Linked DNA regions of Homo sapiens. The protein of the gene in region 4 interacts with the protein of the main gene of each other region in a pairwise test. Each region holds a gene or a part of one and is shown on either strand. Other genes may lie near its edges.

Region 1 (3,649 bases), on a different chromosome or scaffold from region 4:
AGCATCAGTCGGCCAAGTTCCACCTGAACTTGCAGTCATTCCCACGTGGACTCCATACCCTAGGAGCATGGGAAAATCTGGCAGTGGGAGATCAGGTCGGGGGTGCTCCAGCTGACCCAGGCTAAGTCCTCCTACAAGCTCCAGGGCATTGGAATCTTAGGAAATCGTCAGTTGCTTTGTTCTAAAAACTCATTTTTAAAGAATTATTATTAAAGTTCTCTATAAAAAAGTACAAATAGCCCAGTATATTCAGTTGCTCTACTGGAATTAACAAATAATTTCTTCCTTTAGGTTAAGAAAAAGTCTTTGGAATTTGGGGGCTTTTGTGTAGGGTCACTGTAAGGCTGTTGGATGGCTGAGTGTGACCTCCACGGTTATTAACTGTCACCTGATCACATAAATGGGAGGCACAGGGGTCAGAATCCTTCATACTGTTGACCTTCCCGAAGAATCCCTGACACTACGGAATTAACACAATTGTGGTTGACCCCATTTCTAGATGATGGCCTTCATCCATGTGTGCGTCAGGTAACCTTCCCAATTTCCTGGATCTTCTAGCAGCAGAAACAGGTAACATTCCCTGGATCTGCTGCATCAGCCCAAATGGGAGGAGACAGGAATGTTGACCGTCCAGTGTATTTCACATGTAGCCCAAGCAGCTTAAGGAAAATGACTTTAAAAAAATATTTTGGCTGGGCGTGGTGGCTCATGCCTGTAATCCCAGCACTTTGGGAGGCCGAGGCAGGCAGATCATGAGGTCAGGGGTTCAAGACCATCCTGGCCAACATGGTGAAACCCCATCTCTACTAAAAACACAAAATTTAGCTGGGTGTGGTGGCACGCACCTGTAGTCCCAGGTACTTGGGAGGCTGAGGCAGGAGAATCGCTTGAACCTGGGAGGTGGAGGTTGCAGTGAGCCGAGATTGTACCACCGCACTCCAGCCTGGGCAACAAGAGTGAAACTCCATCTCAAAATAAATAAATAAATAAATAAAAATTTCGCAACACTCCTTGTCAAATTGGTGTGTGGCCACTAACAACAGAGCACCCTTGTCCTTCCTGGTGACTGTCATGCCTACTGCTGTCCCGGTAACTCTCATGATCACACCCTTTGGGCCCCTGGCTCAGTGTCTGTTTTGTGATTACGATTGTCTGGTGTGCCCAGCAGGGGAAACAGGCACTCCTACCCTTGTCGGGTTATAAAGAAACAGGAAATGGTGTGATGTGCACACACAAGAAATAGGTGACTTTAGAAGACCAACGTGAGAAAATGACTGTCAGATGGTATCACCTTTCCGAGGCTTTTAAAAATACAAGATTGTCACTTTTTCTCTTTTCAGTACTGAGAAAACAAATTCCAGCAAAAAAAAAAAAAACAGGAACAAAAACAAAAAAAACCCTCCGAAATGTCTCCTGCTAAGTGGAACCCAGGTGGGAACTGCGGTGTTAGTTGTTAGTTGTGCGGTGTTAGTTGTTTTTACTTCTCCATTCATCCTCAGCTGCCATAATTCTTGGCAGGAAGCCAGAGAGGAAAATGGGCAGGAACCTACTGGCCTCTGGGGTACACTGGATGGTCTGGCTCTGCCCAGAGAACTATGAGCTACTTCAAGGTGGGGAGGGGAAAGGGGCTTCTAGCAGCTGGTGGGGATGTTGTTAGCATTTGGGGGGTGTTTTCTGAGGAGGAACAGACTGTGTCCCTGGCAAAACACTCTCTTGAGGGCCAGCAGACAGAAACTTCCATCTGCACCAACCACCTCCGATGGGAAGCCGTTGACGGTGGCACCCCTTCCTCTCCCTCCTACTGCAGGCATATTTCTGGATGCACCCAAACCCTGTTCTTCTCTGGCTCCTTCCTGACTACAGCCCCCGCCTCCCTCTCCCTTCTCAGCACGTCCGTTGGGGGGGCTCTCTGGAAGTCTGCATCCTCCTTCCAGGAAGTCACCACACTCGCCTAAGGACTTTGGCTCCGAGAGGTGCTCAACAATCATTTGTTGGGCTGCATGAACCTTGGTCTTTCCGGCCAGGCTTCCAGAGCTCTTGGCCCCATGGTTTTCTATCAAAATTCTGAGTAAGAAAGCCTAATACGTGGCATCAGAAAGGGCAGACAGTGGCCCTGCATGGACCACACGAGGCCAGTGGATGAAAGGAAGGGAAGCACTGCCGGAGCAATAATTTTGACTCCTGTGGTTTCTGATCTGCCTTTTGAATTAGTTCTTGCCTGGATGTGGGCCTCTCATTAACCTTGGAGGGCGGCCCCTGGCAGCACTCCAGTGACTTCCTTTCAAACCCAGCACCTGGTGACCTTCAATTGAAATGCCAAGAGACGGGCTGCCAGCCCACGGCCTGCAGCCTCAGGGAAAGGCCCTGCCACCGAGGAGTGGCCACCTTCCAAGGGAAGATAATGCAGAGCCATTTGAATGGCCTGGTGTGGTCATAGCTCCATGGGTCCTGCGGGGATTCGGACGGTGCTAGATTCTGCCAGGCGGCCTAGACCTCCACAGGCCCTGGCAATCAGGCAGTGCTCAGGGGCAAGGACTTCCCAAAGCATCCCCCAGGGACCTCCTGCGTGGCTGCGGCAGTTCCACAGCGCACCCCTCGCCACCATCTCATTTCACACAATACCCACGAAGGGGCCAGTACCATAGAATTTTATGAACTGATTCTGAGGCGAGCCATTGCTCATGGTTATCTACATGACAGTCTTCCAACAATAACTGTCTTTGGCTGCTGAGATCTGGAAAGCCCTAACCATTACCCACATTCAACACTCAGCAATGGATAAAGCAGGTTCCACATGACAACACTGCACCGGGCCCTGATTTTGACTGTTTCTCTCTGGGGGTTTGTTCTGATGTCTGTTGTCCCTCAGGCAGTGTGCTGGGCACCCCTGTCGGGGCATTTTCTTGGAAAACTTTGCCATATGGTCTGAGAGAGTAACAGCCAGCTGAGACAGTGAATGTGTTTCCTAGAGAAACAAACTTGTGGGTGTTGGGGTTGCAGGGAAGGCCTAAGCCTGCTGCCTGCTTTAAACAGGCAGGCTGTTTGGGGTGCTGAACAAGGGTCCCTAACCTCATGTGTTCCTCCGTGGGATCTTCCTCCTCTCTGGGGGGCCTCGTGGGGGTCTGTCCTGCTGCTGCTCCATTCTGGGCAGGGGGACTGGCCCTTTTGTCTCCTAGGCTCTTTCTATAAACCAGTCCCTTTCCCCTCGGATCAAAGGAGGAGCACCTGGTCAGGACACGAACCCAGATCATGCACTGACCTGCAGGGCTGCAGGGACAGGGGAGCCAGGACCCCCTGGAGTCTCGATGTCTATGGTGCATAAAAGATGGCAGAAGAAATGGTTCTTTTCTGGCCGGGCCCGTTCCCTACCCCGTCTCTCCTTCTACTCAGGGTTGCCAGGACCACCTGGGCCTCTCACCTCAAAAAGCCTTTCATGGTTGTGTGTTCTGTGAACTTCAGGCAAACAGCCAGAGGAGAAAAATAATGCGAGCTTAGCTGGGAGATGCTTCTGGGAGGAAACAGAGCGGCTCTCTACAAGGACTGACAGCTACTTTCATTCTGTTTCTGTTTGTGGTAGAACCCGGCTACTCTGAGGACCTTGCATGGGGGTGTCTCACCAAAGCAGCGCGCTCCTCCCAAGACTGGAAAG
Region 2 (3,649 bases), on a different chromosome or scaffold from region 4:
ATTACAGGCATGCACCACCACACCTGGCAAATCTTGTATCTTTAGTAGAGACGGGGTTTCTCCATGTTGGTCAGGCTGGTCTCAAACTCCTGACCTCATGTGATCCACCCGCCTCGGCCTCCCAGAGTGCCGGGATTAGCAGCATGAGCCACCATGCCTGGCCAGCATCTTCATTTTTTAAAAAAAGGATAATAATAGTGCTTTCATCATAAAGTTATGTGACATTTTAAAAAAATATAATGCATCATGCCTTATAAATCATGCCTGCAATAAATATTGGCCATTATGTCATTGTCATTAACAGCATTTGCAAAGGTTCAAAAAGGGGAAGAAAGAGCCAGTGATATTTGAGGGTAGGGGAAGAGACAATACAAACTGGCTGAAATGCAATGAAAACAGGAGAAAAGGCAGGTGGAAGCACATCCTGAAAGCTTTATTAGCTGTGCTAATTCAGCAGTCACTAGCTACATATGGCTATTAAGCACCTGAAATGTGGCTACTTCAAACTGAGGTATGCTTAAGTGTAAATTACAAAATATATTTCAAAGACTTAGTATTTCAAAATGCAAGATATTTTATAGTCTTTATATCAATTGCACCTTAAAATATTTTAGACATACTGGGTTAAATAAAGCATATTAAAATTACAATAGCCAAAAGGTGGAAGCAACCCAAGCGACCAGCAACAGATCAATGGATTTTTAAAATGTGGTACATACATATAATGGAATATTATTCAGTCATACACAGTAAATTCTGGCTGGGTGCGGTGGCTCACACTTGTATAATCCTAGCATTTTGGGAGACCAAGGGGGCAGATCGCTTGAGCTCAGGAGTTTGAGACCAACCTGGGCAACATGGTGAAACCCTGTCTCTACAAAAAAATACAAAGTAGCCAAGCATGGTGATGTGAGCTTGCAGTCCCAGCTACTTGGGGGGCTAAGGCAGGAGGATCACTTGAACTTCAGGAGGTGGAGGCTGCAGCAAGCCATGATTGTGCCACTGCACTCCAGCCTGGGTGACAAAGTGAGACCTGTCTCAAAAAAAAAAAAAAAAGTAAATTCTGACACATGCTACAACATAAATGAACCTTGTGGACGTTATACTAAGGGAAATAAGTTAATCACAAAAGGCCAAACACTGTCTTATTCCACTTATATGAAATACCTAGAGTAGTCAAATTCAGAGACAGAAAGAAGAATGGTGGTTGCTAGAGGTGGGGGAATGGGGAAAATGGGGAGTTACTGTTTAAACGGTCCAGGGTTTCAGTTTTGCAAGATGAGTTCTGGAAACGGATGGTGGTAACAATTGTACAACAATGTGAATGTACTTAATGTCACTGAAGTGAACCCTTAAAAATGGTTAACATGATAAATTTTGTTATGTGTGAGTCACCACTATTGAAAAATTGACTTCAGTCCTTCCTTTTGATTAAAGTGGCTAATAGGAAAATTACATATGTGGCTCATACTGTTTTTTGTTTTTAAGAGACCAAGTCTCATTCTGTCACCACAGCTGGAATGCTGCGGTGCAATCATAGCTCAGTGTAACCTCCAAACTCCTGGGCTCAACCTTGCTGGACTAGCTGGGACTACAGGTGTGTGCCACCACACCTAGCTAAATTTTTATTTTTTTGTAGACAGGCTGGTCTCGAACTCCAGGAGGTGGGGGCTGCAGTGAGCCATGATCACTGAGCCATGGTGCTCAAGCAATCCTGCCACCTTGGCCCCGCAAAGTGTTGGGATTACAAGCATGAACCACTGAGCCCAGCTCACATTGTATTTCTATAAAAAATAAGTCATGGTAAAAATTTCCAATGAGAAGTGTTTTGATGAACAAGATATATTAACAGGAAGCCCTAATACCAGGGTAAGCAAACTTTCTGTTACGGGCTAGACAGTAAATATTTTTGGCTCTACCAGCCACATGGTCTATTCTGAAAGGAGCTATAGATAACACATAAGCAAATGGGCACAATAGATTTCGACTACCAGTTTGCTGGCCTCTGCCCTAAGGCACCCATTATAAGCAATGGCTCTTAAATTTTCATAAATTTTGTGAGCCAGTTTAATAACGGTATCTTGAAATCTGCCACAGTGAGAATATTTACATCATGGAAATCCAGCAAACACTACAAATCAGTGTTTTTCCTGAAGAACGGGTTGATAAACCAGCATTTACCAACAAACCACTCACTATGTAATGAATTAACTTCTCTCCTATACATCTAAAATTATATTCATTATGAACCATCTTTGAAAAGAAATGGATAGCTATTCATATCACTTTCTGTGCTCTGTGGTTCAGATGAGAATCTCCAGCTAAGAAAGGTGGTTCTAGAAGAGTAATGTTCCAGGCAGAGAAGCAAGAGTGAACATCATGAAGCAGTCAAGAGTTGTGCCTGGAGAGTGGTGACCTGGGGGGAACAGCTTAAGAGGAAGCTTCCACAAAAGGACTGGGAGCTACCAGATTATGTACATACTACACTCAGTAAAGGTTCAACAATAAGTAGTTATTACTGAATATGTATTATTGTACATAATGGACTAGATTCATCTGTAAATAATTTATTGAGCCCTAGGCTCTGGTAACACAATGGTGAACAATCACAGCCCCTCTCTAAAGAGAAGGAATCACATAAATATACAATTTTTAGTTGTGATGAATTCTTATCAAAAACAGGCTACTGTGAGAAATCCAACAGGGGATCCCAATCCAGTCTGGACAATCAGAAATAGATACTACCTGGAGAAACTGACCTTTGCATTAAGATTTAAAGATGGAAAAGGAATGGGCAAAGAGTGTTCTTGCATTCTAGGTAGCAAGAACAAACTGTACAGAAGTCCTCAGGCAGGAAAAAAAGTATTAACAGGTCAGGGAACTAGAAGGTCAATGTAGTCAGCCAAGCAAGCAAAGAAAGAAGGCATCTGCAAAAAATGGAGAGGGCATGGAACCGTATTACACAGGGCCTCGCTACTCCATTATATATTCTAAGACCAACAGGGAGCCATTAGCTTTACACAGAGGGTGGCATGCTCTGATTAACGTTTTTCAGAGATCACTCTTGGAATGGCTGGTGGGAGAGTTATAGAAGTCAGGCAACTGACCAGTAGGCTACTGCAGTTTCTAGGCAAGAGGTAATGGCAACTTATTGGAGCCACTACCCGATATTTTAAGTACGTAATCTATAAAATACGCCACCACAGAAATTTTTGCTCTCAGGACACCATTTTACAACTTCAGAACTCCAAAGAGTTTTGCTTGTTTAGGTTATAGCTGTTGATATTTATAATATTACAAATTAAAACTGAATAACCTTTAAAAATAAATTCATTTAAAAATAATACATTATATATTAATAAAAATAACATCCTTATGAAAAATAACTATTTTCTCAGTGATAAGAGTGGCATTATTTTAAATTTTTGGAAATCACTTTAGTCTTGTAATAGAAGACAGCTGGATTTTCACATCTGTTGTCATATCCCACACCTTAAAGACTCTAGCCAAGTGCACTGCCCAGTTTTGAGAAAATTAGACTGAAAAATAAAAATAACATCTCAGAATTACTATGAAAATAGTTTCATCTCATGGTACCCTTAACAGGGTATGGGGACTCCCCAAACCACAGTGAGAACTACTGCTCAGA
Region 3 (3,649 bases), on a different chromosome or scaffold from region 4:
GTCTGGACAACACAACAAGACTCCGTCTCAAAAAAAATGATTTAAAAATTAAAAAAAAAATTTTTTTTTTTTTTAGATGGAGTCTTGCTCTGTCGCCCAGGCTGGAGTGCAGTGGCGTGATCTCAGCTCACTGCAAGCTCCGCCTTCCGGGTTCACGCCATTCTCCTGCCTCAGCCTCCCGAGAAGCTGGGACTACAGTCGCCCACCACCACGCCTGACTACTTTTTTGTATTTTTAGTAGAGACAGGGTTTCACCATGTTAGCCAGGATGGTCTCTATCTCCTGACCTCATGATCCGTCTGCCTCAGCCTCCCAAAGTGCTGGGATTACAGGCGTGAGCCACCGCGCCCAGCCTAAATTATTTTTTAAAAAATTAGCCGGGCATGGTAGATGCATGCCTGTAGTCCCAGCTACTTGAGAGGCAGAGGCAGAAAGATCACTTGAGCCCAGTAGTTCAAGGCTGCAGTGAGCTATGATCACACCACTACACTCTAGCCTGGGGTGACAGAGCATGACTCTTATCTCTAAAACAAGAGGAGGACAACAAAAGAGTGGGGTATAGCATGGTAAACTGGTATATATAAACACGTGAACTAATAAACCTAGTGATCAGAATACATAATTAACAGAACAGAGGAGAAAAGCATCAGTGAAATAATTCAGAAAGTGTCCCATAATTGAAGGATCTTTGTTTCTGAATTGAAAGGGCCAGTTAGGTCCCAACATAATGAAGGATAAAGGTAGGTTCCCATTAAGAGACATTATCATAAAATGTCAGAACACTGAGGGAAAAAAAAATCCTAAAAGCTTCTAGAGAAGAGAAATAGAACACGTTAAAAAATAGACTTGAAATGACTTCAGCCTTCCCTGAAAGTAGCACTAGAAGCTAGATAGCAATTGGAGAATCTGTTCAGAATTCTAAGGGAAAATTATTTCCAACCTGGAATTTTAAACTCGGGCAAACTATCAATTTGGTGTTACAGTAGGCTAAATACATTTTTTTAGACATGCAGTACCTCAGAGTTTTTCATCATTCCCCTTCTCAGAAAGTTTCTGGAAATATTTGCAAAAATGAGAGGGAAAGGCAGGAAAGGGGAAGACAGGTGACAGTGCAGTGAAAGAGGCTTCCAGGCTGACAGCTGTGTACTAGGCATAGAGAAGAGCCACTGCAGGAGCAGGTCAGATGCTGTAGGAGCGACTTCTTCAGGAAAATTGGTTTAACAGAAAACCTGAGGTGCCTGAATACATTCAGAGGAGATCGAGACTACTGGGGAGATCATAGGATGAATTTGTACTGATAACATTGAAAAACTAAACAAAGGAATAGACAGTTGTTTAGTTGCATTGCTGTATCATGTATGTTTTAATTATTAACAAAATTTTGAATCTAACAATAGCGTTTAGATTTGATAATGCTGGGTGGTACATGAGTGTTCATATCTTTTTTACACGTTTGAAATGTTTCATAAAAATATTTTCAAATAATCACAAATAATATATCACTCCCCTGCTTAACTCTATAATATAGTCCCTCTGCTGTTTGGATTTTATTCTGACTCTTAACCTTAGGTTATATATTTGGCCCTTTCCTGTCTCCCTCCAAAGTCATTCCAACCACACTGATATTTTTCAGTTCCTGGATCCAGTTCAACCAGTGTTTTCCAGCCTGCCTCTGGAGACTTGCACATGCTGTGCCTTCTTCTTGGCATCCTTCCACTTTTCTTTGTGTGGCTATCTTCTTTAACCTTGAGCTTTCAGCTGTAAAGTCACCTCCTCAGAGAGACCTTCCCTGACCACTTTAAAACTAGGTCATTTTACTCCCTTAATTCTCTCATTGAGCACCATGTTTGTGTTCTTTATAGCATTTATGACAACTTTTGTTGACTTGTTTTTCTTTTTTTCTATTATATAAGCTCCTTCATGAGGGCAAGGATCTTATCTGTCTCTTTGTCTTGCTAACCATTGTATCACCAGTTTACCCAATGCCTGGCACATAGTAATCACTTAGGCCAGGTGCAGTGGCTGATGCCTGTAATCCCAGCACTTTGGGAGGCCAAGGCGGGCAGATCACTTGAGGTCAGGAGTTCGAGACCAGCCTAGCCAACATGGTGAAACCCTGTCTCTACTAATAAAGTATAAAAAATTAGCCAGGCGTGGTGGCACATGCCTGTAGTGCTAGCTACTCAGGAGGCTGAGATGGGAGAATTGGTTGAACCCAGGAGGCAGAGGTTGCAGTGAGCCGAGATTGCACCATTGCACTCCAGCCTGGGCGACAGAAGGAGACTTCGTCTCAAAAAAAAAAAAAAAGCCAAGCGCAGTGGCTCACGCCTGTAATCCCAGCACTTTGGGAGGCCGAGACAGGTGGATTACGAGGTCAGGAATTCAAGATCAGCCTGGCCAAGATGTTGAAACCCCGTCTCTACTAAAAATACAAAAATTAGCCATGTGCGGTGGCAGGCGCCTGTAATCCCAGCTACTCCAGAGGCTGAGGCAGGAGAATCACTTGAACCCGCGAGGTGGAGGTTGCAGTGAGCCAAGATCCCACCACTGCACTCCGGCCTAGGCAATAGAGTGAGACTCCGCCTCAAAAAAAAAAAAAAAAGTAACCACTTAAATTTTGTGGAATGAATGAATGATAGTATAGCTACTGTAAAGGTTTCATGTGGTAATAATGACACCTGAGTTCAAATTCCAGCCCTGCCCCTACTGAGCTGATCTTTTTTGATCAGCTGTAAACAGAGGATATTAACATAAACACCCCCATGTCCCCAGTGGGGTTTTAAGGGACCTAACAAAGTTGTTTCTTGATCTGGTGCAGGTTACATGGTATGCTGAGTTTGTAAAATTCATTGATCTGTATAGACTTACGTGTACTTTCCTCTGTGTATATTACGTTTCAATAATCTTTTATTTCCCCCTACCCACTAGACCACCAGGGAAATAATCTCTTTTTTTTTTTTGCTATGGAGTCTTGCTCCCAAAGTGCTGGGATTACCGACATGGGAAATAATCTTTTTTAAAGTTAGAAAAAAAAGCTAGACATGGTGGCTCACACCTGTAATCCCAGCACTTTGGGAGGCCGTGGTGGGGGGATGGCTTGAGTTCAGTAGTTCCAGACTTGCCTGGGCAATGTGATGAGACCTTGTCTCTACAAAAAAAGTTTTAAAAATTAGCTGGGCATGTGGCATGCAGCTGTGGTCCCAGCTACTTAGGAGACTGAGGCAGGAGGATCACTTGAGCCCAGGAGGTCAAGGCTGCAGTGAGCTGTGTTTGTGCCGCTGCACTATGGTCTGGGTGACAGAGCAAGACCATGACTCAAAAAAAAAAAAAATGGGAGGTCGAAGCAGGTGGATCACCTGAGGTCAGGAGTTCAAGACCAGCCTGGCCAACATGGTAAAACCCTGTCTCCAATACAAAAATTAGCAGGGTATGATGGCATGCACCTATAATCCCAGCTACTTGGGAGGCTGAGGCAGGAGAATCGCTTGAACCCAGGAAGCGGAGGTTGGGCGACAAAGCGAGACTGTGTCTCAAAAAGAAAAAACACCACCTGTATTAGGGCAGCTTTAAGGATAGAATATGTATATATAAGGCATTCACACAATGCCAAACACAAAAGTATATGCTTAGTAACTAGAAGCTGCTCTTA
Region 4 (2,313 bases):
CACTGCAACCTCTGCCTCCCTGGTTTCAAGCAATTCTCCTGCCTCAGCCTCCCGAGTAGCTGGGACTATAAGTGTGCGCCACTATGCCTGGCTAATTTTTTTGTATTTTTAGTAGAGATGGGGTTTCACCGTGGTGGCCAGGCTGGTCTCGAACTCCTAACCTCAAGTGATCTGCCCGCCTCGGCCTTCCAAAGTGCTGGGATTACAGGCATGAGCCACCATGCCAAGCCCTTCCCCCCTATCTTTAATGAAGGTCTACCATGTGCCTGACACAGGGGATACCCACCCCCACTTCTATGGGATTCAGGCCTGGTTTCCAGCTTGGCCTTCAGGCTTTTCCCACCACACCCCAAATGCTGTCCCTGGCTTGTGGAGTGGGGCAGGGGGCCAGCCTGGGACTTTCACGCCAGCCCGACTGGGGCAGACTCTCTCAACCCCACTGGATCTTCTGCTGTTTGTCAGCCACAAGGTTCTGCCTAGAACTCCTTTCCCGAATCTCAAAGTTAAAAAAAAAGGCAGGGCCCCAGGGGTTGGAGTTGCATACATTTTTTTTTAATCCAAAGAAGTAAGCCTCCTAAGTATTGCTTAGACAGGTTTATCAGAATTAAGTAGGCACAACACTCATACTTTCAGAAAAGCATTTCCAGCCAGGGGAGTAACGTGGCACTCACCAGCATGATGTCTGTTTTGCCAACTTGCTGAAGAACGAGTAACCTGAAATGAAGGAGCGAGAATCCCACCCTCAGCCCCCCAACAGCTTCCTCAGCTTCTTTTTCTTCTGAGTCACCCCTGAAACAGTCGCTGCATCTAAGACCAGCCTCGGGCTAAACCCAGCTGGCCTGAAGGCTCAACTCACATCAAACGGAGCTGGGAGTCGCTTTTGCGTGTGTCCGCAGTTTGAAGTGTCCTCTCCGAAGGTGAAGTGGGGGAAGCAGGTGCGCTCCGGGATGAAGTGCAGGGAGGCAAACTCTGGCTGGGTTCCTGTAAACATCCATCGCAGCTGCAAATAATCAGAAGCCAAGGCCAGGCCATCGATTTGACACTGCAGGCAGATGAGGTCTTGGGATGCCTCTTGCGTTCCCCCTTCTGTGGGAGCAGGTGCCTTCCCAACCTCAGCACTCAGTCCCAATCTCTCTTCCACTCTCCTGGGTTCAAACAGGAACCTCTCTGTTGGCACGAAGCTTTTGAGGGGAGCAGGTCTAACAAGAAGGAAAAAGGGGGGTTATTAGCACGGAAGCCCCACCCTGCCACCAGGTTGGCTGGGGACAGGGACCAATCCACCAGGCTCGGGAGGCTTGGGGTGGGGCAGGGAAGTCTTCCTCCATCCCTCAAATTTAGGGAACCACTGGGAGCCCCAGACTCAGGCTGAAAATGTCTTTCTGCAAATATAAAACTCTTTTTAATGAATTTGCCTAATTTCTCAGAGACCCTGGGCTGGAGAACCAGTGCAATGTCACACGGGAGAGGAAGGACTGTCCTGTTTATTGGGAGGGAGGAGGGGGATGCTGGTGCAGCCTGCTCAGGAGTCACCCAGGGTCTGAGGGCTGACTTGCAGCTCTGGGCCAGCTGAGCCAGCGCTGGGTAGTGGGCAGGGCTTGGCAACACCTTCCACCTTGCCCGGAAAAATGCTTTGCAACCTACAGGAAGGCAATAGCCACAGCCAAGTTACTCAGCAGCCCCACTTGGCTCTTTCTCCCAGGATGCAGCATCATCTCCATGGCCTGGCCCCCTGGCACGTCCCCGTTTCCCACTGCCTTCTCTGTGTGCCTAGCCGGGTGCCAGTGTCTCTGTAGCACCTCGTGTTCCCATGCCCAACCCCTCTGCAGCCCCCTCAAGCCCTGCTCTGATTCCAAGCCTCATCTCCCAGCTCACTATCCTTTCCGCAAACTTCACTGAACATCTCGCAGAACTTGTATGTTAAACATGTGACATGTATTGTTGTTTGACAGGGTGCTATTGACATTTGGGGTAGGACAATTCTTGGAGGTGGGGTGGCTGTTCTGGGCACTGAGCATTTAGCAGCATCTCTGGCTCCAGGCCACTAAATGCCAGTAGCACCCCTGGCCACTGGAACAACTAAAAATGCCCTCCTACCCTATTTCCAAGGTCGACCTAAGGGGGCGGAACTGTTTCCATTGAGACCCATGCATCGTATAGGATAAGAAACTGAGGTTCTTATCATTTAATAGGATAAGAAATTGAGGTTCAGAGAAGCCAAGTAACCTGCCTAAAGATGCACAGCTATGAGAGGCAAAGCTGGCACTGGCTTGGTAATAACGATGGAAACGGTCTGAATGAGAGCAGGTACCATTT

Evidence for each region.
Region 1: the proteins of DEXI (region 4) and PRKCA interact in binary tests that used the Homo sapiens proteins (3 or more experiments, as listed by UniProt).
Region 2: the proteins of DEXI (region 4) and UBQLN1 interact in binary tests that used the Homo sapiens proteins (3 or more experiments, as listed by UniProt).
Region 3: the proteins of DEXI (region 4) and SETDB1 interact in binary tests that used the Homo sapiens proteins (3 or more experiments, as listed by UniProt).

Annotation. Positions count from the first base shown.
Region 1 is NC_000017.11:66,806,050-66,809,698, reverse strand, and holds part of PRKCA (protein kinase C alpha type), read right to left. Parts: 3' UTR 1-3,649. UniProt on the Homo sapiens protein: Calcium-activated, phospholipid- and diacylglycerol (DAG)-dependent serine/threonine-protein kinase that is involved in positive and negative regulation of cell proliferation, apoptosis, differentiation, migration and adhesion, tumorigenesis, cardiac hypertrophy, angiogenesis, platelet function and inflammation, by directly phosphorylating targets such as RAF1, BCL2, CSPG4, TNNT2/CTNT, or activating signaling cascade involving MAPK1/3 (ERK1/2) and RAP1GAP.
Region 2 is NC_000009.12:83,697,873-83,701,521, forward strand, and holds part of UBQLN1 (ubiquilin-1), read right to left. Parts: intron 1-3,649. UniProt on the Homo sapiens protein: Plays an important role in the regulation of different protein degradation mechanisms and pathways including ubiquitin-proteasome system (UPS), autophagy and endoplasmic reticulum-associated protein degradation (ERAD) pathway.
Region 3 is NC_000001.11:150,953,800-150,957,448, forward strand, and holds part of SETDB1 (histone-lysine N-methyltransferase SETDB1), read left to right. Parts: intron 1-3,649. UniProt on the Homo sapiens protein: Histone methyltransferase that specifically trimethylates 'Lys-9' of histone H3. H3 'Lys-9' trimethylation represents a specific tag for epigenetic transcriptional repression by recruiting HP1 (CBX1, CBX3 and/or CBX5) proteins to methylated histones.
Region 4 is NC_000016.10:10,928,361-10,930,673, forward strand, and holds the end of DEXI (dexamethasone-induced protein), read right to left. Parts: exon of another isoform or gene 1,200-2,313; 3' UTR 531-1,199; downstream 1-530.